6 separate regions of the Homo sapiens genome follow, and regions 1, 2, 3, 4 and 6 are each linked to region 5. Evidence: fine-mapped expression QTL. A gene starts in region 5. Each other region holds a variant in brackets. All regions are shown on one strand. Distances are from middle to middle.

Region 1 (4,103 bases), 870 kb before region 5:
TGCCAACATGTTTAGCCCCATGAGACTCATTTCAGACTTCTGACTCCAAAACTAAGAGAATAAATTTGCCATATTCTTTTAAACTTAGGTTTGTGGCAATTTGTTACAGCAGCAGTTAGGAAACTAATATGATCACCCAGGATGTGATTAAGGCCCAGGCCTAATAGAACATAAATCACCCCTGTCCATACCCCATTGGCCAGGAGTAGTCACATGGCCCAATCTGACTGCAAAGGAGGCTGGGAAATGCAGCTTTCCTGTGTGCCCTGGAGAAGGAAATAGAATGATGACCCCAGAGCATTGCATCTTCCACAGAGAAGCTGGGACCCATTTAATGATTCATTTCCATGAAATGAAATGAATGGAAATTATTCATTCATTTATTTCATCCCATGGAAATGAATGAATTCCGCCCAGGCCAGAGTGGCCAGAGGAGGGAGGACTGGGAGGAGGCTCCATCACCAGAAATGGCTCTCATCACTTCTGCTGCATGAATGCCCTGTGCTTCTTCTCCCTTTCCAACCAGCAGAGACATCACTGAGTCATCTGTGCCTCTCTCTCAGACAGTGCAAATGTCTTAAAGAATCAGGGACATCCCTACAAAAACTCCAGGTGCCAGACACACCAAGCTGAGAATTAAGCATTGGCTCTATCTCCTTGTGGTCATCATAGCCCATTTGGCCCTGGTCAAGTCGGGTCCTGAATGACCATTTCAATCAATTTCCACATTGACTTTCGAATTTCTGACTCCCTAACTTTTCCTTGGAATTCCAGACTCAGATGTCCAACTTCATAATATGGTTCCCCTACCTCACTGGACATCAAATATGCATTTCCAACTTCATGTGGCCAAAACCCAATTTTTGGCTTTCCCTCCCAAAACATGCTCCTTCCCTAGCATTCCCCTTCTCTAGAAATAGTACCATCAACCCAGTTGCTTTGGTCAAACATTTCACTGTTATCTTTCATTTATCTCTTTCTCTCATTCTTCCGCATCCAACCCAATAGCTTGTTGGCTTTCCTCTCAAAACTCATCTAGAATTTACCCACTTTTTTCTTTCCCCACTGCCAACCTAGACAAAGCTTCCTCTTGCCTGGAAAACCACCTCAGCCTCCAATCTGGTCTTCAGATTTCCTCCCCAATCTCCAGTCCAGTCTCCCACATAGCAGCCAGTGGAATCCTTTTAAATCTGTCATGCCACAGCGACCTCCTTCTCAGAACCCTGGCTTCCCATCACACAGAAAACAAATCTGAGCCCTTTACAGGTCGACTGGATGTGGTCTGCTCTGCCTGACCCTCTAACGTGTCTCATCCCCACTCCCTCTCTCCTGTTGCTTCATTCACACTCATCTTTCCATTCACTGAATTCTTCAAGTCCGCTCCTGCTTGAGGACCTTTGTTCTACTTGTTCCTTCCACCTGGAATTCTCTTCTCCTTTGCAGGGCTGGCTCCTCCATGCAATTGGATGGCAGCTTAACTCCCACTCAGAGAGACCTACCTGACCACCACACCCCTCTCCATCGTGCCACCCTCGATTTAATTCTCTGCAAGGCATGCATTATTACCCTATGCTTTTTCTACTTACTTGTTTATTTATTGGCAGTCTTTCCCTACCCTGAGCCAGAACGTCAGCCCCATGAGCACAGGGACCAGGTCTGTATTGTGCACTGCTGTATCCTCACACTTAGACCAGAGCCTGGCACATGGCTCAATAACAAATTATTGAGTGAGTGAATGAATGATGAATGAATGAATCAGTACCTCCCAAGGACCTACTATGAGCCAAGCACTGTGCTGGTCACCAGGCTGCAGAGATGAGCAAGAAAACTTCAAGGAGCTCACAGTCCTGGGTTGGGAAAGCATCTATCCAGCTAAACAATGGAAGTCAAACTGTGATGTGCACTTGGCACCAGGACCTGCTCAGGACGCTGAAGCATCAATGTGAGAGGGATTAGTCA[G/A]AGGAGGCCAGTGAGAACAGTAATAAATATTTGTATGCCTGTATTTTGCAAGCTGATAACAAGACAGAAGTAGATGATTTTCAGTTGCTGAAGGCTCTCAGATAATCATCAGTGTACAAACACCCAGGCCTGATCAGCAGGCAACAACAACAGAGTACCCCCTGCCTCCTCCGTCTACTTCCTTCTTCCCCAAAGCCCTGCTCTGTCTCATGGGAACCACCTGGCCCCTCACTGTCTGCTAGCAATTCTACATAAGCCTCTGCTGCACGCTACCTTTGCCTGTTTTCTGGAGGAAATTTTAAAAAAAAGAAAGATGTGTTCCCGCTCTTTTTCTTAACAGAGGGAAGCCCATGTAGGCATGAAATTGGAATTGCCTTGCTCCATTCACAGCATGGTCATTGGGCTCCACTGACCCCTGAGGGGCATTAATATCTCAGCAGCAAGTGGATGAACCACGCAAAGTGGCAGGGGACACGCCCGAAGAGAGCCAGCTGGGAGGCCTAAGGCTAAAGGGTTGGGGCGGCTGCCTGCTTTGGGCTTTGAATTTGAGGACTTTGAGCCCTGAGCAGGCTGAGATGGTGGCTTATTCAACCTGAAATTGAGAAGTGGGAGGACAGCGATGGGCAAAACAGAGCCCAGCCTGAAAGGGGAGATGGATGCTCATTTATTCATCCACACGCTCATTCACTCATTGGACAAACCCTGAGCATCACCCGGGCCAGGCTCTATGCCAGGCAGGAGAAGCACAAAGACAAGCAAGCCAGGCCTTGCCCTTAAAGAGCTCCCATCCATCAGGAATGACAGACCTGGGGGAGAGAGCACTGCAATTCCATGTGATAAATATCAGAATAAAAGTATGAAGAGGATGCAATGGGGCACAGAAAGGGTGAAAGGCTGTTCTGCCCAAGGACATCAGGGCAGGCTTCTAGGAAATGGTGACATTGCAGCTAGGCCTTGAAGGATAAGAGGGAGCATCAAAGTCAACTCTGCCACCAATGCAATTTGGCCCCAGGTTAGTTCAGGTGCCTCAGCTATCTCTCAGACACCAGCCCAAATGCTGCAGGTCACTAGGAGGGACAAGGCCCCAAGTTCTGGTTAGGTTTGCATTGTCACCTGAGAAGACCTCATCTTTAAAAAAATAGACTGGCCAAACACATGGCCGCTGGGCCTGGCCAGACCACCAAGTTCCCCATTCCTTGGAAACTCCACCTCAGCCCATGGCTCTTCCCAGTCATGAGTCCTGGTCACCACCCACCATCTGCAGATTCCCCCAGGGGTACTCTGGCTGTGCAGAGGCCCCCTGGGCTGGTCAGCTGCCTCTTGGGATGGCCCAAGGTGCCCACTGATCCCTGCTGGCTGTAGGTGTGCCCGGCTGGCCGGGTAGATGCAGAGACACCTGCTGGGTCTCAAGGGGGCCACTGTCACCAACACCCACCACATCAGCCCAGGACTCAGCCCCCGCCTCCTGGGCAATCAGCCCTCAGAGTTGGGCTCATCAGCAAGAAGTGCCCACAGCTGGTAGTTAGCAGTCTTGTGTGTGGTGGCTCTAAGATGGGCCCATCTTTTATCTGGCCTGGGCTCTTCAAGTGTGAACACCTGGGGTCCTCCCCATCACTCTGGACACAGGAAGTCGGGGAAGCCATGCCCCTCATCCTATTGCTGCCCCTTCCAGGAGGAAGGCTGCCCCTTCCAGGGAGGAGGGCTGGCGCTGGCTCTATGGTGGTCCATTTGGCCAGGAGCCTGTGAGAGAATCAGAGTCTGTGGTCGCCGTCTTCTCCACAGCATTGGGGCACTGTGCTTCTGGGGCCCAACAGCCCCCACCCCAATGGAAGTCACATGCTCCTCTGGCCCTCTCGCCTCCGCAGACTGGAGACCTTTATCCCTCTTGCTTATACCCTGGCCAGGGCTCTTGGCCAAGCAGGAGAGGATCTGGAGGCCCCGTCCCTGACAGGTAACTGTGACCCAGCAGCCAGCTTCATCTTGGGCCATGGTTACCTTGTCTGCAGGGAGACGCAGGGCAGTGAACTGTGGCTCCCATCCAAGAGGCACTGGCTGCCCTCACAAGACAGTGATGCAGGGTTTTCAGATTTACTGTCCTGACCTCAGAAAAGCTGTAGGTTTTATTAAAGGCACAAGTGTACACA
Region 2 (4,103 bases), 170 kb before region 5:
CCCCATGGGTCTCCTCCCAGTATCGGGCTAACCCACAGTGCCTTTCCTAGTCTGCCTGATGAGTGCCGGGCTCACGGCCCCGGACCACGGCCGTATTTGGCCCTTTGCTGTGGCTGTTGTGCTTTGGTAAGCAGAAATCCTGAGTGACCCTGCCCAACTTAATTATTTAAGGCCAATTAGTAAAGGTGACGAAACTGCTACAGAGAAAACAGCAACTCATGAATGTAGTAGCTCACACTGGATTTCCTAATTAAGCTGTGACCAAATCAGCTTTTCCTGAACTGCCTGGGACAATAATGAATGCTAGTCTCCTAAGTGAGAGCAAAACAGCTCCTGTGGGTTCAGATTGCACACCCGCCATGGAGAGACTGTGCCCAATAAATGGCCACTCTATTTGCTGTGGATGCAGCATATGGATACTGGCCAAGCCTGACTTATCAACTTAGTATTCTCAAGATCTAACTTTTGATTTCCAGCAGCTAGTTAACTATTAATTCAGGCTCTTGGGAAATACTGGAAAGTGATATGTTAGGAATGGGGGCAGGGGTTACCTAGGAATCTAACAAGACGCCCCCTCCCACTCTCCAGTGATGATCTGGTACAGGCCAGATTCAACAGGACAGCTCCAATCTGGTCTCTCTGGGAGCGTGAAGTGCCCACAGACCAGCAACGCTTGATCAATCAGGGCTAATGGAAATAAAGACACCAGGTGTGCCAATGAGGGCACAGGCTATTTTCCACTTGGCTTGTCTTTATCACGGCCCTAAAAGTTTCTCTCTGCTCCCTGGATGGCCTACAAATGTGGACATGATCCCTCGAATCCTGGGCTAAAGCAGAATCACAAAAATCACAAACCCGATCTTCCAGAAATGAAGCAGAGGCACATTTCACTCGAGGGACAGAAGCAAAATGCCAAACCCAGAGCCTGCTCCGTAGCTCCCCAGGAAAGGTAGAGACTGTGTGGGGCCATTGGCAGCCTGAGTGGTACCCATGGGGTCTCCTCTGCGCACAGCAATCCATGGGGGTCCTCAAAGAGATGCTGTGGTGGCAGTTTCCAGCTGTTTCTCTTGAGACCATCTGTCCCAAATCACAGCCCAAGGTCATAAATCAAAGACCACTTCCTTTCTGACATGCTCTTTCTTGGGGAGGTGTCCACACGTATAGGAGAGTGGTCTAGAGGAAGAAAGGTTCATGGAATGTGGGACGCATGGGATAGGAATGTAACCAAGAAGAGAGAATGAAGACGAGTTTTTAATTATTAGAAAATACCCCATGTGGCCACACTGAAACTTTCCTGGCTTATGCCAACACCAGCAAGATGTGGAAAACCTGATTACTGTTCTTAGCCCTGATCATCTCATTGGTTTTATCACCCTGTGCCTGGCTGCCTTCCTAACATTTTCTACAGTAGGTAAGACTGGCTCTACCTTTCTAGTAGCGGAACAGAAAACCCAGAAATGACCAGGCAACCTGCCAGCCATCAGCTTAGACTCTTGACATGACAGACTGAGAAGGGAGAAGGGCTGGTGTCAACCACCGCAGTCACAAAGCATGCCTTCACCTAGCACGTGCGTACCACTAAGCAGCTTTTCAAAACTGATGATGGGAAATAGTGAGCAGCAGCTTCCGGAAGCAGGTACTGACCTGGTGGCTCCACCTGGAGCCACTGCCCGAGCCTGCGAGGTCACCAACAGCCTCCGCAAGATTTCCACACGTGTGGCTCTCCACTGCTCAGGGGGCAGGATGTGAAGGGCCAAGACTGTGAAATAGTAGGGCCCGTCCACTTCAAAGGCACTCTCCACCCACTTCTCCTTGGGCTGTTCCAGAAAGCCTTGGAGGTTCTTCTCTTCTCGGGAAGTTGCTCGGGTTCTAGAAGAAAAGCGGCATGATAAAATAAAAGCAGGGTGGAAGCAGGACCCGGCAGCAAGAGCAGGAAGAATTTGCTCAATTTGTCGTTGTCTTGTGACATTTGCTGAACGCTTGGATGACTCAACACTCCCCACCCATCCTTGCCGACTACTCCCACTTCCTCTGATAATCCACGCCCTTCGTCCCCTTCCAGGCCCTTCTTCGCGGCATCTTCCCTTCTTCCCTG[G/GC]CCCCATGTCTAGCTCCTACCCCAGCTCTAATACAATTCCAAGCAACTACTGGTTCCTGAGCACCATATATCAGGGACGTTCACAATCTCCCCAACATGGAACTGTGCTAGTAACTCCAGAGGCCCAGAAAAGTGAAGTGACTTGCCCAAAGTCAGCAAGCTAGTGAGTGATGGGGCCAAAAACATGAATCAAGATTCCCTGGTGGGTCCACAGCCTGACTCCCCCTTGCTCCACATAGTCTTGTTATGTTATGTTTACATGGTTTGCACTAAATGTGCATGTGGTTCCTTTCCTAGGCTCCCTCTTCCGGTTTGTCTTCTTCTGATCTAGGATCCTCCCGCCTTCGTTAGAACAGCCTCTTCCAGATGAGCGCTGCTTCTTGTCCTCATGCGTCCTAAGTTGCAATGATGATGATGATGATGACCACACCAGACTCAGTGCCAGGCACTGCTCTAAGTGCTTTACGGGATTATTTCACTTAGTACTCACAAGAATGCTATGGGATAGTGCCACCACTATCCCAATTTTAAAGAAACAGAAAACTGCAGTACAGAGGAGGTAAGGATTCTGCCCAAGTCTCACATCGTGGAAAAAACTGTGTTCTGAAGCCAGGTAGCCTGTCCATCTTAACCCTACCTCCTTCTCCACGCTGAAGCTTTGACAAAAGGTCACGGAATCAGCACTGAGAGGTGACTTAAGTCCTTCCTGATGACACGCTTCTGGGTACACTCTCTCCTTAGATCCTGAATGGTGCTCTCATGCCATGAATGCTTGATGCCCTATCCTAACTCCATGGGGCACTGGTAGGGAGAGGTGGGGACAAACACAACACTAGAACCGGGAAAAAAAAGTTACCAGGTCTATAGGTGGCACTGGCACAGATGCTGGACTCTGGGAAAGCAGGAGGAGAGGGTGCAAGGACACCCTGCCTGCTTCTGCTGCCTGCAGATGGGCATGGATGGATACATTCAACTTGATCTTCCAGCCCTGTAGGGAATCTGAGGCTGTTGGCTGCTGCAGGATCTGCTCAGGCTCTGGTCTGGCTTACGGTGGCCATGCTGTGACATACTTGCCTCCATAAACAAATATTCCACCAAAGGCACTCAGCCCCACTGTGACCAAGCTCCCACCAATGTCAATTGGATAGCTGTCGACTGGGAAGCAGTCTGGGCCGAGAAGCAAGGCCTCTCTGTGAAGCTTCTGGGTCAGCCTCTGGCTGACCAAAGAAACTGTGAGACAGCCAATTCCCTTTCCAATGAAGGGACCTGACAATTACAAATGTCTGGCTTGTTCAGAAACATACTGACACCTAGTCACCCAGGGCTCTGTCCAGGGCCCCAGGAACACTGAGAAGGAGCGAAATTTGGACAGTGGGAAGGTCTGCGCCATCAGTGCTGCCAGGTGCTGCTCCCGCCAGTCTAAGCAGTTCAGCAGATGATGTAATGCACTCTGATGTCAACCTGCCCCTGCGTGTTTTAACAATGAAGCCTGTGGTCTCGAGGTCAGCCTTTTAACTCACAAGGAAATGGGAGGGAAGGAAAAGATAACATTGTTGAAGAGAAAGAACTAGAAAAGACAAGAGACAGATTGTCCTGTTGCCTAAACTGTGCTGCAGCTACCCGGGGTGAGCTGTACACAACCTTTCAACAGGGAACCGTAAGCCTCTTGCTAGGAGATGGGGCCTACAAGCATGAAACAGTGAATTAAATGGAAGAGCTAAAGGATAGTCAATCTCCTAATTTTTTTTTCTTTGAGACATGGTCTTGCTCTGTCACACAGGCTGGAGTGCAGTGGTGTGATCACGACTCACTGCAGCCTCAACCTCCTTGGCTCAAGCCATCCTCTCACCTCAGTCTCCCGAATAGCTGGGACTACAGGTGTGAGCCTGGCTAATTTAAAACAATTGTTTTTTTCATTAAGACAGAGTCTTGCTATGTTGCTTAGGCTGGGCTCAAGCAATCCTCTTACCTTGGCCTCCCAAGTGCTGGGATGACAGGCGTGAGCCAC
Region 3 (4,093 bases), 150 kb before region 5:
AATGCTAATTTTATTTTGTGTCTACTAGAAGCTAGACATTGTATGAAACATTTTAAAGACACTATCTCCTTCAATTTCATTAGAACACTATGTAATAATCTAACAAATATTTATTGAATGTTTTACTCTGTGCCAGGTCCTATGCTAATTAAGTACTTTCTATGATCCTTTTACATAAGGTTACACAGCTTGTTCAAGGTTACCAAGCTATAAGCGGAGGTCTAATTCCAAGCCTGGACCTTCCTCAGGAGTAGAAACTGTCTCCAATCAATAGGGACTACTACCCAGGACAAACAAGGCCATTTAAATCAAAGAGCTTTGACTCAAGCCTCGGGAATCAAAACAGGAAAAGAGAGTACATCAATCTTTACCTACAGAGATTCAGACGTCTTTATATAACCATACAAGGAGGGGGTTCATCCACAATTCTTTAAGCTAAACCCACAATCTGACTAGAATGATAAGAATCAAGTCTTTTATAAATGACAAAATTACAGCAACTTCACTAAATTGGAGAATAAGGAAAGTTCCCTGTATGTCTGGCACTGAGCACATATATTAATATTATTCTCATTTTGCAGACTAGAAATTGGAGCTCAAAGTAACCACTGATGAAATCCAGTGGGGGATTTGGTAGCACGCTAATTCAAGCAGCCTGCCTCCAAGTCTATGCTGAGCTTCAGGACAGGACACCCTGGAGGAAGACAACCTGCCAGAAAGGCCAGTTGCAGAAGTGTTTCCGGCTATAGAAGCCCAGTGAGAATTCCTCAGAGAGAACCACCACAGACACTGAACACAGAGCAGGTTCTAGTTCTAGTCAGTAGCTACAGAGGTAGGCTGCTTATCAGGGAAATGGAGGGCAAGGTAGAGAAGGGAAGCTGAAGTCCCAGAACATAGGCTATCACAAACTCAGAACTTTGCCAGAAAACCTTCTAACTGGATTAAGCACATCAATGTGAGGGGCAAATGATTCTCAACTTCTATCTTGCTTCACCATTCAAGGGAGATACCCTGGTGCATTCTGTGGGTTCACTACCACCATTTACCAGAGTGCCCACAGAAGCTTGGTCTTAATTTTTTATATGCATCAGGGATTAAATCTGTATTGTTCTGTTTTGATGCTACAATGTCTGTAACAAGAGGTACTGGCTGGGACAGTTCTCTGCCTGTCCCTCAGCCAACAGTGCAACAACGACCCCACTGGCAGTAGACCAACAGTCAACAGTAAGCAGGATTCCCAGCCCAGTGGGAGAAAAGAAAGGAGAGAGGCGGAAATATGTAACAAATTGAAGATCAAAATCTACAAATAGTATACTGCCAATTTAGTTTCTCAAACTCTACAGAAGTATTTGGGACCAAGTCTAGAAAAGTTTGCTGTGCATCCCTGCTACACTAGTTTGCTGTAATTAAGTTACTTATCTGATTCATGTGCTAAAGACCTCTCCTCCCAATAGAAACAAGAGAAGGGAAGAAATGGCAGGGGGAGAGAGAAATGGAGGGGAAGAAAAAGAAACAGGAAGAGAGGAATGGAAGGAACAGAGAGTAAGAAAGGAGGGAAAGGTGAAGGGGACCATCTAATACTTCCATAAGTGGACAAACAGCATCACTCGTG[G/A]TGGCCAAAAGGCCCAGAGCGCTGGACTTCCTTCATTTCCCTTTTCCCCTCCTCAAGAATAACTGCCTGTTTGAGCCTCCATTCCCCAACTAGTAAAACAGAAATGATGCTCCTTGACACAGCTACTGGAAAAATGTTCTACTAAGCGAGCAGGCCCATAAAAGCTGAGAACTAATCTCAGCTGAGAGGTGTCCATACTGAAGGGAACAAGACAGCAAGCATTCCCAGCACAGAGCCTCCTTCGACACCCCCTGGCTTTCAGTTCTTGGGGTTTGACAACTTGCACAGCCCAGCAAAATGCTTTTGCTTTCCTGAAGCTTCATGAAGGTCATTAAATGTCCCTCCATTAGTCAGATGCCTCCAAAGGAAAACAAGATTGGTTTTCTCCACACAACCCCAAACAGGGACAGTAAAGCCTTAGAGAGCTGCTACAAGCCAGGTAAGTGATGATGAACAATGGCTCCTGCTGGTACAAGTCTGCATAAGTCAGAAAAGTGAAACCACACCTCCAAACGAGAAAGCAGGCACATACCTCATTCGTGGTACACCAGACTTTCTTGTAAACTTCAGCCACAGGAAGGTCCAAACTAATGATTTTATTGTTCACTAGAAGCTGAACAGAAAAGCAGGTGAAGCTGTTGTTCCAAATAATTGTAAGACAAGTAAAATCCAAGAGCAAAGGGCACCTTACGGCAATGGTTGATAATTCACAATTTTTATATGTCATGGACCTATCAACTCTCCCACTCTTAAAAAATCCGCACGTATGAAAAACACACAGAATTTTGTGCACAATTTCAGGGGCTGCTAACGTCCCTAACCCACACACAGGCTCCAGCTTAGACACACCCACCGGGGACCTTCTCCTGCAGGCTCAGCACCAGAAAAGGCTTTTCACTATGTAAAAATGTCAGACCCTCAACGGTCTGCCAGAAAGTAACTGACACGGGGACATAAACCTGCACAGGGGGTAAAACGCCAATATTTAGGGGGCTCAGGTAACTCAGACTCACCGAGAAGTCTCTGCCAGAGGCAATAACGATAATAAATACCCACCACCACTACAACCAACAGCCATTAACAATATGCTTACTTCCTGCCAGGCACTGGGCAGAGCCCTTTACAGGTTATTAACCTTAGCACTAGGTGAGGTAGAAAGGTGGGAATCATTAACCCCAACTTACAGAGTGGAGAAACTGAAGGCCACCTGCCCCAAGTTAATCAGCTACTAGGAAGAAGCACCTGGATTTGGTTAGCCTAGGAGGAAGCCCCTAATCGTAAACGTGGGCAGCACTGTCCTATGGTCATTACCTCCATGCCACTGTCATCTTCCAGGAGGGCCACTAAGTCACAGTCCTGGCAAATCTTGTTCTTTATATCCCTCATCAGCGGCCCGATGCCTGGCTCATTGCTGCTATACGGGTTCCCAGGCATCCTGCCCTGTAAGAAGTCTTCTTGTTGGGGATCCTTCTCCAGGGTCACAAAGAACTCAGTGACTTCATTCTCCTCCTGGAGGACAGACAGAAGGGTGCATCAGAAGGGATGGCAGAGGTGGAGATTTATACCATGCTACCTTGTTCCATGGACACTCGAGGAAAACACACCAAACTCAGCAAGCCCCCCAAACATTTAAAGATACAAAGGACAGGAAACTCAGAGGTACTTCCAAAAATCTAAACAAACTCAAGTAGACTAAAATATCAAGCATCTACCCTGAAACCCCAGGGTGGATTAGGAGATAAAGCCTAACAAAACAAGCAGACAAGGAGTGACATATGAGAGATATATTAAAAAATCGGGGAAGGGGTGCGAGGAGGGACTTTCCTTCCTCCTCCTGCTGGTCTCATGTGATGCTAACCAATTTGGGGCCAGAGGACTTTGTCACTGATGACCCTGAAGTCAAGAAAAGGGCTTCTCTATGGGACATGACACTCAGGTACACACCCCCAATGAGCTCTCATTGCTAGCTCATGATACTAGTGTTCATCTTTCCTCAATAGCAGGAAGGGTTCTCTGGATGATACTGTGCTTCTACACAGTTCAGGCTAGGGAAAAAAACACACGCTGCATGTGTGCACAAAATACAGGGCAGCTAAAGAAGGAAGAGAGTAAAAATATCTTTATATTCAAGCTCAATACCGCTTCTTCCACAGTATGTTGGATTGATATGCAATGGGATTTTGGTAATGGAGGTTAGACCTAGTTTTTAAAAAAACATGATTCTTTACTTGAATCTAGGAAATAAGACCAAGGAAGGTCATTAAATGTCCCATCGTTAGCAAGAGGAAAATTATGAGGTTGCTTCACTTTTATGGCGGTGGATCTTCTTTCACTAATGACTAAGTGGCCCACAGCTGGTACAATTCCCCATAACTTTAATGAATCACCAAGAGGCTTCATGGCAAAGTGGGCTGTGCTGACACTCGAGAGCCATGGGAAGCACCGCACTGCTTACAGGATAAATGATGCTGCAGAGCCTCT
Region 4 (4,103 bases), 190 kb before region 5:
CCACACAGTCAGCAAGAGGCAGAGTTCCACCTGGAACTCAGTCTGTCTGACTCCCAAGGCCAGTGTCCTCCCACCTAAGCTGCCTCCCTCCCTAGCATTGGCAGAGAGATGGGCAGGTGGCCTGGAGGATGGGCGCTGGGGCAGGCGCGGTGGTTCCCAGGCCTGTGTCTCTCTCCTGTAATCCTCCAGAGATCCCTGGGCCAGCCTTTTTCTCAGCCAGGGCTTAGCAACTTTTCCTAGAAAGGGCCAAGCAGGAAATGTCTTGGGCTTTGAGGGCCACCTCTGGTATCTGTCGCATATTCTTCCAGCCCTTTACAAATGTGAAAACCATTCTTCCTTGCTGGCTGTCCAAAAGCAGGCAGGATTTGCCACCCCAGTTTGGTAAGCTCTGCTGGAATTGATCTGCCATTTTCAGCCAGGTCAGCCTCTGGGACAATAAGTTCTTTGTGTCTGTCCCCACAGTCCTGGCCAGTCAAGTCTGTATATTTCCCAGGTAATGTCCAGCTGGACTGCGGACCAAGATGAGGTGGCAAAGGGGATGGTCTTGGATTTGGACTTAAATCCCTGTTTGTCACTTTGGACGGAGTGGCCTCAGTTTCCTTGTCTGGAAGATGCAAGTAATAGTGCCGGCCTCACGGGGTGGTTATAGGATGAAACTCCCCGTAAGCACTTCCCACGGAGCGAGGCACACCTTGGCAGGTAATTGCGGTGTGGGAAGCACCTGGCGGCCCAGCCCTGGTCTGAACAGCACCTACGCCCGCTTCTTGATGAGGCTGTGGGCCTGGTAGTGCCTGATACCATGATCTTGTGCAAGGCCCTGCCCCTCCTGGGCCTCAGTTTCCCTGTCTGAGGTTGGTTGGATCTGACCCCTGAGGGTCCGCCACCCTTCAGGAGTTAATGGAATGAAAACAGCCATGGGCATGCCAGCCGTCTTGTGCTGATGGCTCTCCCAGGCCGGACGCCACCCTGTGTGGTGCTCAGAGCAGCACGACATGGCAGGGAAGGAAGCCCAGCCTGGGCCCATCCCTGCCCGCCCCTCTGGTTCAAGGCTGCCTTGCCTTCCCTGGCAGGTAGGCAAGCGCAGTCCAGGCTCCGGGCCCCACCATCCCAACCCTGGAACGTCAGGCCCCAGGGAGGCAGAGGGCTCTCCCCTCTGAGCCACCGCTGTCCCCAGGGTCCGTTTGGATTCTGAGAAACCTGTCTGCCATTCTTACCGCAGTCCAACCCTGCGGCTGGGGTGCCAGCCAGGGTAACCGGGAGGAGGACGGGGTGGTTCCCAGCCGGGCCCTGGAAGGCTTCTCAGAAGCCTCTGTTCCCACATCAGGGAGATGTGTCTTAGAACCCACAACTCCTTGGCATCTGCTCAGAGCTGGGCACTTTGCAAACAAACATGTCACATCTATCCTGTGAGGCAAGGCTGCTGACTGCCTTTTACAAGGGGCAAAACTGAGGTTGCTGGGGAAGCAGCTTGTCCAAGGTCGCATAGCCAGAATTAGAACCCAGGACTGTCTGACACCAAAGCCCTTGAACTTTCCACCTGCCACCCAGCCCATAGAGTTGGAAATGACCGTTGACATTGTCACCTCCCAAGTGACACATCTGAGGCACGGCCAGTAGACTGGCCTCTGCTTGGATACCTCCAATGACAGGGGACTCACTACCTCCAAACAGCTCTTGTCACTGTGGGAGCCCTGCTGTCAGCTGTGTTTTCCTTAGACGGAACGGAAACCGCTTCTGTGAAGACCCTTCCTGGGAGTAGGTCCTTCATAACTCCAATGACGCACTTCCAGCGCCGCCTCTGTGCCAGGCTCTTGGTGAATCCAATGAGGCATGTTTGCTTTACACATGAAACCGAAGGCCTGGCCAGGTGAAGGGCTGTTGCCCAGCCAGCCCTGAACCCAATCTGGCCCCAGACTCCAACCTCAACCACTTTCCACCCAGCCCTGGCTTCGGGGCCCCATGCAGAGCTGGCAGGTGTGGTGGGGCAGAGGAGGGAGCGGCCTCAGAGAGACGAGGCAGGGAGGGGCTGGGGAGCCGCCTGGAGCAGCCCCCACCCCCTCCCCAGGACTCAGCACAGTCCTGTGGAGAGGAAACGCTGCAGAAAGGCGGGGTCCTGAGGCTTCTGGAACCTGCCTCCCCTGCTCACAGCACTTCAGGGCCCTCGTGGCGCTCAGATTGGCCCCTTCACCAGCCCCTCGACGTCCCTGTTCCTGACACTCCAGGCCTGTCCTGGCTTCCAGGCAAGGGCACCTGCTGCTCCGACGGCCTCCATGTGGGAACCTGTGTCTGGGACTTGTCTCTCTGAAGCAGAGGGGGCTCCCTGAGGTCAGGGCCTGAGCTGGCTTAACTCAGCACGTCCTGTGAGCACCTGTGCCAGGACTGCCAGATTTAGTCAATAAAAATACAGGCTGTCCAGGGAAGTTTGTATTTCAGAGAAATGGTGAGTCATGTTTTTTTAGTATACTCCATACTAAAGACTGTAATAGTTCAGGGCGCTGGCTGAGCCCCCTGTAAACTTGGCACCTGGATCTAATTCTGGTCCTGTCCCAGCCCAC[T/C]GGGCTCAGGAACCTAGCAAAGCACAGATCCCACTGCCCGATACCCGTTGTGGGTCCCGCCACCGTCAGAGGTTTACATGTATTTGGTGTTTATGTGAGATTCAGATTTAACTTGGCACCTTGAATTTCACCCAGCAGCCCTAACCCAAGCCCCTCCTTTGGGTGAAGCAACCTCATCCTCGAGCCCCGATTCCCTCATTGGAATGGGATTAACAGTGCCTGCCTCAGAGAGGTGACTCGGGACACGACCGTCGGGTATGGAATCCAGCCCTGCACAGTGGGTTCCAAGTGGGGCCCCAAGGCAGAACCCAGAGCGAGGGAAATGGGAAGGTGCTGGGCCCGCGTCCCATGGCCTGGGCCACCCCTGTGATCGATGGCTCTTGAGGTGACTGGAGCCCTTTTGGCTGCCGGGACAGGAAGGGAGGGAGGGACTGGTGGCCCCATTCACACTGTGCTGTGAAAAGCAGCAGCCCTCCAGCCATCACTTCTGAAACTGGGCGAGGAAACAGAGTGGCATTGTCCTTTTGTCTGCTGTGACACTCCGCATGTGACCCTGTCCCGTGAACGAGCAGATTCCCGCCACATGAGGGGGTAGGGGCTGAAGCGCCAGCAGCTCCATGCCCAGCATTCAGGCCCCACCAAACAAAAGCCACCTCCTAATTGCCCTGTTTGTTCTGGCACGAGGGCTGATGGGGGTGCCTGCGGAGCTCCCTGTCAGCCCGGCCTGGAGCTGGTTCCCAGGGCCTTGCACCTTGTCCGCCCAGCCCCGAGCACGGCTCCCAGCCTGCGGCCAGTTAACCCTTGGCTGTGGCTGCCCTGCCTGCCTGCTGGGCACCTGGCCAAACCCTGGATCCCAGAGCTGTGCCCTCCTGCTGGGAGCTGGGATGATCTAACCCAATCCGTGCCCAGACCAGATGGGGAGCAGGGCCAGGTGAAGAAGCAGGGCTCAGGCTGGCTGGACAGGGAGGCTGCATCTCACTTACGTGCTGTGCAGCCTTGGGTAGGTGAGTTTGCCTCTCTGAGCCTAAGGTTCCTCATCTGTAAAACAGGAAGAACAACAGTAAAAGGACTGGAGATCACGTGAGGCATGGTGATCCTGCTGGAGTGGGTGCTCAGTAAATACAACTCTGGTACAGTTCCCAGATCTCTGAAGCCGGGAACAGCCTAACAAGGGGTCCAGCCAGGACTCCTTGTCGGGACCAAGCTGGCTTGTGGACAGAAGGGGTGGATGGGGTGTCAAGGTCATTGGCCAAAGGCAGCAGAGGGATCTAAGGAACAGAGTCCAAAGAACAATGAGCCTGAGACCCTGTGCCCTTCACTCCTGCCCATGCCCAGAACACCCCCACCTCCCATCCTGCGTGAGAGTTCGGGGCTCTGGATGACTTCCCCCTGTAAACTTGGCACCTGGGGCTAATTCTGGTCCTGTCCCAGCCCCCTGACTCAGAAACTCAGCAAAGCACAGATCCTGCTGCCCCATACCCACTGTGGGTCCCACCACCGTCAGAGGTGGTGACCTTAGATACCTCCCACCACAGCTTCCTCACCCCA
Region 5 (4,000 bases):
GAAAACTGTAGGCCAGGTGCAGTGGCTCACACCTGTAATCCCAGCACTTTGGGAGGCCGAGGCAGCCAGATTGCTTGAGCCCAGGTGTTCAAGACCAGCCTGGGCAACATGGCAAAACCCCGTCTCTACAAAAAATACAAAGAAACTGGAGAGGTGTGCACCAGTAGTCCCAGCTACTCAGGAGGCTGAGCTGGGAGGGTCACTTGAACCTGCAAGGTCAAAGCTGCAGTGAGCCATGATAGTACTGTACTCCAGCCTGGGCTACAGAATGAGTCCCTGTCTCAAAAAATTTTAAAAAGTCTTGGCTGGGCGCAGTGGCTCCCACCTGTAATTCCAACACTTTGGGAGGCCTAGGCGGGTGGATTACCTGAGATCGGGAGTTTGAGACCAGCCTGACCAACATGGAGAAACCCTGTCTCTACCAAAAATACAAAAATTAGCTGGGTGTGGTGGCGCATGCCTGTAATCCCAGCTACTCGGGAGGCTGAGGCAGGAGAATCGCTTGAACCCCAGAGGCGGAGGTTGTGGTGAGCCATGAGATCGCGCCATTACACTCCAGCCTGGGCAACAAGAGCAAAACTGTCTCAAAAAAAAAAAAAAAAAAAAAAAAAAAAAGTCTTAAACAGAGTCCTTTTCCCCCCTCATCAGCCTAACCTGGCCCTGGGCTCAGAGCAGAGCTGCCCAAGACACTAAGCAGTTAGGAAATGCCATTCATTCATTCATTCATTCATGAAAATAAAATTAAGAAAATTGCATATATCAAGTATTCTGCAAAATTAGATACACATATCACCCGATATATATGTGTAACATACACATATGACATTGTGAACAGTTGTGCACATCATTAAAAATGTAACATGTTTTATTTGTCACACTGTCTGGCATAACAGGTACTCAACATATATGCGAATCAACTTTTCCAAGACAGAAAATACTTCAGAGGAGGAGAAATCTGACCTGGGCCCTGAAGAATAAAGTGTAAATAGCAATAATAACAGATAACGCTTAATGACTGCATTCAATGAGCCAGGCATTGTGCTAAGTAATTTAATGGGATTGTCTCATTCATTCTCACAAGTACTGTAAGAGATAACGGACTGTTAGTAAACCCATTCTACAGACAAAGAAACCAAGGCACAGAGTGGTTAAGTCACTTTCCCCAAGATCACACAAGTCTTAACTAGTAAAATTCAAACAAAAGCAAGCTACTCCAGGGCCTTAAGGAAGACGTGGGTGGGTGAATGAATGAATGAGTGAATGGCATATTCTAGCTGCTTAGTGTTTTGGGCAATCCTGCTGTGAGCCCAGGGCCAGACTAGGTTGATGAGAGGGGAAAAGGACTCAGTTTAGGACTTTTAAGACGAAAGCTCCTGTTCACTTGCCTACAAGACACCAATTCGAGTAGGAATTAAAGTTCACTGACAGCTTGGCGACCTCTGACACCTGGTAGACCAGAAACCTCACAGTCAAAAAAATCGAACCTGACGAGGGAGGACGGGATCAGTGATCTCTGACCGGCACCCCAAGCATTCCTGGATGGCAGGGCCGGCTTACACGCAAGGATCAGCTTAGAATGACCCCTAACACTTGGTTTAAGGCTCTGCTTCCAACGACTTTAAATCCTTAATAATTTTTTAACAAGGGGCCCCACGTTTTCATTTTGTACTGGGTCCTGCAAATTATGCGGCCAATCCTGTTAAGTGACAACCTTTAGCAGGTAGGAGACAGGTACTGGGGAAACAGCCACTTATCTCTCGAATATGTTCCACACGTACGCACCAATCAAACTTGCCCACTTGGTCTTCGTAGACCGCGGCCGCAGGAATCAGCAGCGTAGCCCAAAGCCAGAAACGAGAAGCCCACTCAGCCGCCATGATGCGAGCGCATGCACCACCCACCGCCGTCCCGGCATGCACCGCGCCGCGGGCTCCGCCTCCGCGGGACCACAGAGCTGGGATAGCGCGCGAGGCCCTCGGTCGGACGGGACGCTCGGGATTCAGGGACTGCCTCGGCACACGGGAAGTTGCCCTACAGGCGCGGGAGAAAGCGCAGGCGGCGGCTTGGCAGGGAGAGGCAGGCTGCAGTGCACATTGGGTCAGGCACACGCGAGGGGCAGCCCCCGAGGGCCGTCCCAGAGTCCCCCGCGCCGCCGGGGTCCTAACGGGGTGCACCGTCTTCCGCCGCACGTGGATTCAGCGCGATGCCCAAATCCAAGCGCGACAAGAAAGGTGGGCGAAGGGGGAGTCGGGACCCTGGGGGGAGCTCCGTGGGCTGGCTACCCAGCCTGCGGTGAGGGCTTCGGGGCGGCGGGGGCGCAGATTGGAACGCCAGGACATCCTCGAGGTGTTCCGCTGCCTCGCTGCGAGCTGGAATGGGGGCTTCGGGGCTGTAAAACCGCCAGAGGTGGCTGACGCCCGGTCGGGTCTGGGGAGCGGAGACTCGTTTTGCCTAGTTTCAGGTGCTCTTGCAAGGCCAACTGGGTCGGGAGGCAGCTCCTGAACACCGCCCCCGGCTATGCCTGCTGCCGTTTCGGCCCACTTTTCCCAACTTCGGCCCTTTCTCATCTTCCTGCGCTCCCGCCACCCTGGCTGCCTTTCCCTTCTTTCAGCACAGGTTTGTTCCCGTGTCTGGCGTTGTGTGTCTGCGGTTGTTTCTGCCTGGCATGCTTACATCTTCGTATGGTTTGCGCCTTCTTAGTTGTCAGTTAATAGGATCCCTCTGAGACAGGGTCTCGCTCTGTTGCCCAGGCTGGAGTGCAGTGGCGCGATCGTAACACTGCAGGCCGGATGCGGTGGCTCACGCCTGTAATCCCAGCACTCTGGGAGGCCGAGGCGGGCGAATCATCTGAGGTCGGGAGTTCCCGACCAGCCTGGCCAATATGGTGAAACCCCTTTTCTACTAAAAATACTAAAAATTAGATGGGCATGGTGGCAGGTGCCTGTAATCCCAGCTACTTGGGAGACTGAGGCGGGAGAATCGCTTGAATCCGGGAGGCGGAGGTTGCAATGAGCCGAGATCGCTCCACTGTACTGCAGCCTGGGCACGACAGAGCGAGACTCCGTCTCAAAAATAAATAAATAAAATAAGTCACTGCAGCCTTGACCTCCTTGGCTTAAGCGATCCTCCCACCTCAACCTCCCGAGTAGCTGAGACTACAGGCGCACGCCACCACACCCAGCTAGGTTTTTTTTGTTTATTTTTTATAGAGAAGACTCAGTGTGTTGCCAAGCTGGTCTCGAACACCTGGGCTCCAACCACCCTCCCTGAGTGCTGGGATTACAGGCGTGAGCCACTACACCCGACTTGCGCACCTCTTAAGAGACCGTTTTTGACCACCTTTGCTGTGGTGGCCTCTCTCTTAACCCGGCTCCCTGGAATATTCAAAAATATTTAGGGGTCTGGCACTTTCTAGGCGTTAGAGGATACAGCAGTCACAAGGAAAGCCTATTTCTTATCGAGCCTAACGTTTTAGGAGAAACATATTCCGCAAAATGCTAAAAATCAGATTGAAAATGGGGTGAAGAGATGTTGATATTTTGTATAGTGTGGTCGGGAAAGGTCTCACTGATGAAGTGACAAATGAGCAGAAAATAAAGAAAGGAAGCGAGCAACCTGTGGAATTGAGCAGCTGTGGAATTATCTGGGAGAATGCTGTTCCAAGTAGAGGGAACCTGAAGTGAAAAGGCTCTGAAATGGGAGCAGATATGACGTGTTTGGGACAAGAGGCCAGTGAGGCTGGAGCAGAAGGAGCCAAATAGAGTTTGGGGAGGGAGTTAGGCAGAGAGGGCAGGACTTCCTCGGCCTTGGCAAGGCATTGGCTTTCCTGCCCAGGTGAAGTGAGTAGCAGAGGACCCATGTGATTTACCTTTACTTATGAAGGGTCACTCTGGTTGCCTTGGTGAGAATAGTTGGGGAAGACAGGGCAGAGGGCAGGAATGGAAGCAGTGAGACCAGCATTAATCCAAGACAGGGTGATGCTGGCTTGAGCCAAAGGTAT
Region 6 (4,103 bases), 64 kb before region 5:
GCATTTGTGTATCAAAACTCATCTAAATGCATACATAAAATAAGAGCAAAACTGATCATCAATAACTGATTCAAATGTTTGGATAGATTCAACCCGTTAAGAATTTCTCACATTATTGCATGTAAATTATACCCCAATAAAACTGATTTCTTTTTTCTTTTTTTTTTTTTTTTTTGAGAGGGAGTCTCGCTCTGTCACCCAGGCTGGAGTGCAGTGGTGCAATATTGGCTCGCCGCAACCTCCACCTCCCAGGTTCAAGCGATTCTCCTGCCTCAGTCTCCCGAGTAGCTGGGACTACAGGCTACAGGCATGTGCCTGGCTAATTTTTGATTTTTAGTAGAGATGGGGTTTCACCATATTGGCCAGGCTGGTCTCGAACTCCTGACCTTGTGATCTGCCCACCTCAGCCTCCCAAAGTGCTGGGATTACAGGTGTGAGCCACCGCGCCCAGCCAATTTTTCTTTAAGGAGCCCAACAAAGAAAGAAAAACAACTTCACATTATTTTACTGGTAACAAGCCAAATATTTTCAAGAGCGAATTTATACTTGCCTTATCAACCATAAATCACAGGACGGTAAGAATCACACCTCCCTTCGTATTTCACATTGTTCCCACAAACCTGATTATGAAAGAATCTGAGGTACTTACCTTATTCATTCTCTCATCAAACTAAGGCAGGAGGGCATGCCAGTGGGTTCACTACAACAGGATTAGGTTTCTCTACTCAAGCTTCCCTAAACTATGACTATGATAACATCCAAACCGAACACCTCACATGTGACCTTTTGAGTTTCACTGAGAAAGCTTAGAGCAGAGGTCACAAAATGAGTCAACACAGGAAGAAATATGGAACAATTGAGATGTTTTCTGATTTTGGAGGGAAAGGAATGAAAAGTAACCCAGGCTTGGCTGAAAGTTGTTTCCATCATTCATTCATCAACAGCTCAACTTGCTCTTAAATAACATGTCATCTTTGAATGCACATAAAACCAAGGTCCAGGCTAAGCAGGTGAAAACAAAATGGAAACTTTTGTTTGGTCAGGAAACTACAGGAATCTGCTGAGAACACTCCTGTTGCACTCTATAGCTTATCTCTGGGAGAGAGAAAAGAGCGGCCTCTACCTTGGCTGCTGTCCTCCTCCGTGCTACTGAAATCGTCCTCATAGTAAGTATTGGAGTCGGTGGAGGCGCTGGCATCGCTGCTCATGGAGCCCTTCCTCTGCCGCTGCAGGACACATGCCTAGGAAAATGACAATTACAAAACCGGAGCCATCCTATTTAATCTCATGCATCGCATGAAAACTTTCTCCATAATCTCTTTTATTTTTTCCTAAATCCAAGAGTATGCCTCTTAATAGCTCCCTTAATTAAGGACTTTCATCACTTTACCCTACAAAAACACTACCAACCAGAGACGTGGACAAGAATTGAAAACAGGAGTGTTTCCATAGTGTCCTCTATGCTTCTGCTTCAGTATGCCAATCATCACAAATCACCAAGTAGCCACGTGTATCACAAAACTGATAATTAATAACTGATTCAAATGTTTGGATAGATTCAACCCGCTAAGAATTTTTCACTTCTTCAACACCAGTACCAAAACTTTGGGTCTATAAAGGTCATGGTGTGTAGTCAGTCTTATTCATTTCAAGAAAGTT[TTA/T]TATATATATATATATATACATATATATATCATATATATAAAATGAGACATTCTTCTAAATTATCAATGGCTTAACTCCCACCCACCTTTCTGTAGGAAGTTGAAAGTAACGTCAAGAGCAGGTTCATCAGTGGGACAGAGTCAATCAGCCGTTGAATCCTCTGTATGGAGGTGCTCTGGGCCATAATGCTCAAGGCTGCAGGGGGGCCATCTGTCTCCCAACCCTGAAGGCAATGATATCAAAGGGCAATTAATGATACTACTCAGCCAGAAAAAACAACTTGAGTTGATGGATCAAGCTTGCTTGGCCAGAAGTGGATCCCGCAATCAATATGCTGATTACCATGGGGATAACCTCCTCACCTTGTGAAGGGCCTCCACTTGTAGGTCTTGAAAGAGAGACGTTAGCAGTTTGATGGCATGGTTTGCCAATATTACTGAGAGTACCCCAAATCCCTGATGCCTACACAAAGAAAAAGGAAAACACAATCCTTAAAATAATTAACAATAAATTACAACTTCTGAAGCAGTGGATCTTGCCATTTTGGGGTTTCAGACCCCTTTCAGACTCTGTGGACCTTCAGAAAAAAAAAATTGTACATACATACATCTGCATATAATTTCTGAAGTTCACAATCTCCTTGAACCCCATCCACAGATGGCCTAAGGATCTGCAGGCTTCAGGTTTAGAACTCCTGGACTAGGCTGGGCACGGTGGCTCACACCTTAAATCCCAACACTTTTGAGAGGCCGAGATGAGAGGATCACTTATGCCCAGCAATTTTAGACCAGCTTGGCAACCTAGAGAGGGAGACCCTGTCTCTACAAAAAAATTAAAAAGTTACCCAGGCATGGTGGCATGTACCTATGGTACCAGCTACTTGGGAGGCTGAGGTGCACCACTGCACTCCAGCCTGGGTGACAGAACAAGACCTTGTCTCAAAACAAAAAATTAAATAAATAAATAAATAAATAAATAAATAAATAAATAAAACCTCCTGGAATAGAAGAAACTCCCAAATGGAAAAATTTTTGGAATTTAAACAATCAGTTCAAGGCTAATGGGTTATACAAAGATGCTGACTTTTAAATGTAGATTGAACTTTTAAAGAATCATTATTTTGAAAAGAAAAAGGTTTGAATTACCAACTTCTATAAAATATCTGGAAACAAATCTAAGAGAATAAAAAGAGAGGCCTGGAGCAGTGGCTCATGCCTATAATCCCAGCACTTGGGGAGGCCAAGGTGGGAAGATCACTTGAGCCCAGAAGTTCAAGACCAACCTGGGCAACATGGCAAGACCCCATCTCTACAAAATATGAAAAACTTAGCCAGAAGTGGTGAGGCACACCTGTGGTGCCAGCTACCCAACAGGCCGGGGCAGAAGGATCACTTGAGCCCAGGAGGTGGAGGCTGCAGTGAACTGTGTTCATACTACTGCACTCCAACCTGGGCGATAGAGTGAGGTTTTGTTTAAAACAAAAGAGAGAAAAGAAAATTACATTCAAGTAAAGTGTTTTCCTCCTGTCCAAAATCTCCACATAACAAAAGGTTAATATATATGATTTGCAAGTTCATATAAATCAAAAAGAAAAAAGAACAAACACAGGCCAGATGCGGTGGCTCACATCTATTATCCCAGCACTTTGGGAGGCCAAGGCAGGAGGATTGCTTGGGGCCAAGAGTGCAAGACCAGCCTGGTCAACACAGCAAGATCCCATCTCTGCAAAAAATTTTAAAAATTAGCTGGGCATGGTGGTGCACACCTGTAGTCCTAGCTACTCAGGAGGCTGAGGTGGGAGGATCACCAGAGCCCAGGAGTTCAAGGTTACAGTGAGCTATAATCCTACCATTGCACTCTAGCCTAGGAGACAAAGTGACTCTACCTCTGTAAAAATAATAATAAAAAAATTAAAAAGAAAATGACAAATACCAAAAAGAAAACCAAGGCAAAGGACATAAGGCAGTTTACAAAAGAAATACAAATGACCAATAAATAGGTGAAAGGAAATACAATCACATTAGTAATCAAAGAAATACAAATACATGAAATATCATAGCATTCTCTCCTCTAAGACAAGCAAACATGAAGACTAATGATGCCCATTGTCAAAGAGAGCATGGGGAAATGGGCATATAAGCACACAGCTGGTGTCAATGCAGATTAGTGTTACTTTTCTAACGAGTAGTTTGACAAAACATTTCCAATGTTTAAATATGTGAGCCCTTTGTCCTAACAACGGTACTTTTGGGAATTCATCCCAACAGGACAATTAAGTTCCCAAAAGTTTATATTTCAGGAAGTTATCAAAACAAGACATTTGGAACAATCTAAATAAGCGCTTAGCAATAGGGGAATTAGGCAACTACGGTATATTTACATAGTGGAATACTGCTGGCCATTAAAAACTTAGACATTTTAATAGTGTCACTGAAAAGATG

Which allele goes with the higher level. Positions count from the first base shown, and alleles are read on the strand shown. Sizes are in standard deviations (SD) of each study's normalised expression. Not every link is listed here.
For the expression in monocytes of the gene that starts at base 1,892 in region 5, allele A in region 1 goes with a lower level than allele G (large effect, 1.0 SD a copy in BLUEPRINT).

The links. PIP is the estimated chance that this variant, and not a neighbour inherited with it, causes the effect. A credible set is the group of variants that fine-mapping cannot tell apart.
Region 1: its variant is the best candidate, but not a certain one, in a credible set for the expression of EMC1 in monocytes (BLUEPRINT, PIP 0.79).
Region 2: its variant is the best candidate, but not a certain one, in a credible set for the expression of EMC1 in nasal epithelium (TOPMed, PIP 0.78).
Region 3: its variant is the best candidate, but not a certain one, in a credible set for the expression of EMC1 in lung (TOPMed, PIP 0.73).
Region 4: its variant is the best candidate, but not a certain one, in a credible set for the expression of EMC1 in lung (GTEx, PIP 0.90).
Region 6: its variant is the best candidate, but not a certain one, in a credible set for the expression of EMC1 in fetal neocortex (Walker 2019, PIP 0.89).

Annotation. Positions count from the first base shown.
Region 1 is chr1:18,380,292-18,384,394 of GRCh38, forward strand. No RefSeq gene overlaps it. Among named protein-coding and RNA genes, the nearest start is that of KLHDC7A, 99 kb to the right of the region's middle. RefSeq lists an enhancer at 2,827-3,626. The variant G/A (reference allele first, on the strand shown) is at 1,960.
Region 2 is chr1:19,079,705-19,083,807 of GRCh38, forward strand. UBR4 (ubiquitin protein ligase E3 component n-recognin 4) reads right to left here. Exons shown (of 106, transcript NM_020765.3): 103 at 1,645-1,869. Among named protein-coding and RNA genes, the nearest start is that of IFFO2, 130 kb to the left of the region's middle. RefSeq lists an enhancer at 1,391-2,590. The variant G/GC (reference allele first, on the strand shown) is at 2,096.
Region 3 is chr1:19,097,453-19,101,545 of GRCh38, forward strand. It overlaps UBR4 (ubiquitin protein ligase E3 component n-recognin 4), which reads right to left. Exons shown (of 106, transcript NM_020765.3): 88 at 4,068-4,093; 89 at 2,924-3,121; 90 at 2,145-2,225. Among named protein-coding and RNA genes, the nearest start is that of UBR4, 110 kb to the right of the region's middle. The variant G/A (reference allele first, on the strand shown) is at 1,613.
Region 4 is chr1:19,064,101-19,068,203 of GRCh38, forward strand. No RefSeq gene overlaps it. Among named protein-coding and RNA genes, the nearest start is that of IFFO2, 110 kb to the left of the region's middle. The variant T/C (reference allele first, on the strand shown) is at 2,556.
Region 5 is chr1:19,249,633-19,253,632 of GRCh38, forward strand. EMC1 (ER membrane protein complex subunit 1) reads right to left here and starts at 1,892. Exons shown (of 23, transcript NM_015047.3): 1 at 1,783-1,892. The coding sequence starts at 1,877. MRTO4 (MRT4 homolog, ribosome maturation factor) reads left to right here and starts at 2,173. Exons shown (of 8, transcript NM_016183.4): 1 at 2,173-2,231. The coding sequence starts at 2,204. RefSeq lists an enhancer at 1,805-2,310.
Region 6 is chr1:19,185,417-19,189,519 of GRCh38, forward strand. UBR4 (ubiquitin protein ligase E3 component n-recognin 4) reads right to left here. Exons shown (of 106, transcript NM_020765.3): 12 at 2,025-2,124; 13 at 1,748-1,885; 14 at 1,124-1,241. Among named protein-coding and RNA genes, the nearest start is that of UBR4, 23 kb to the right of the region's middle. The variant TTA/T (reference allele first, on the strand shown) is at 1,660.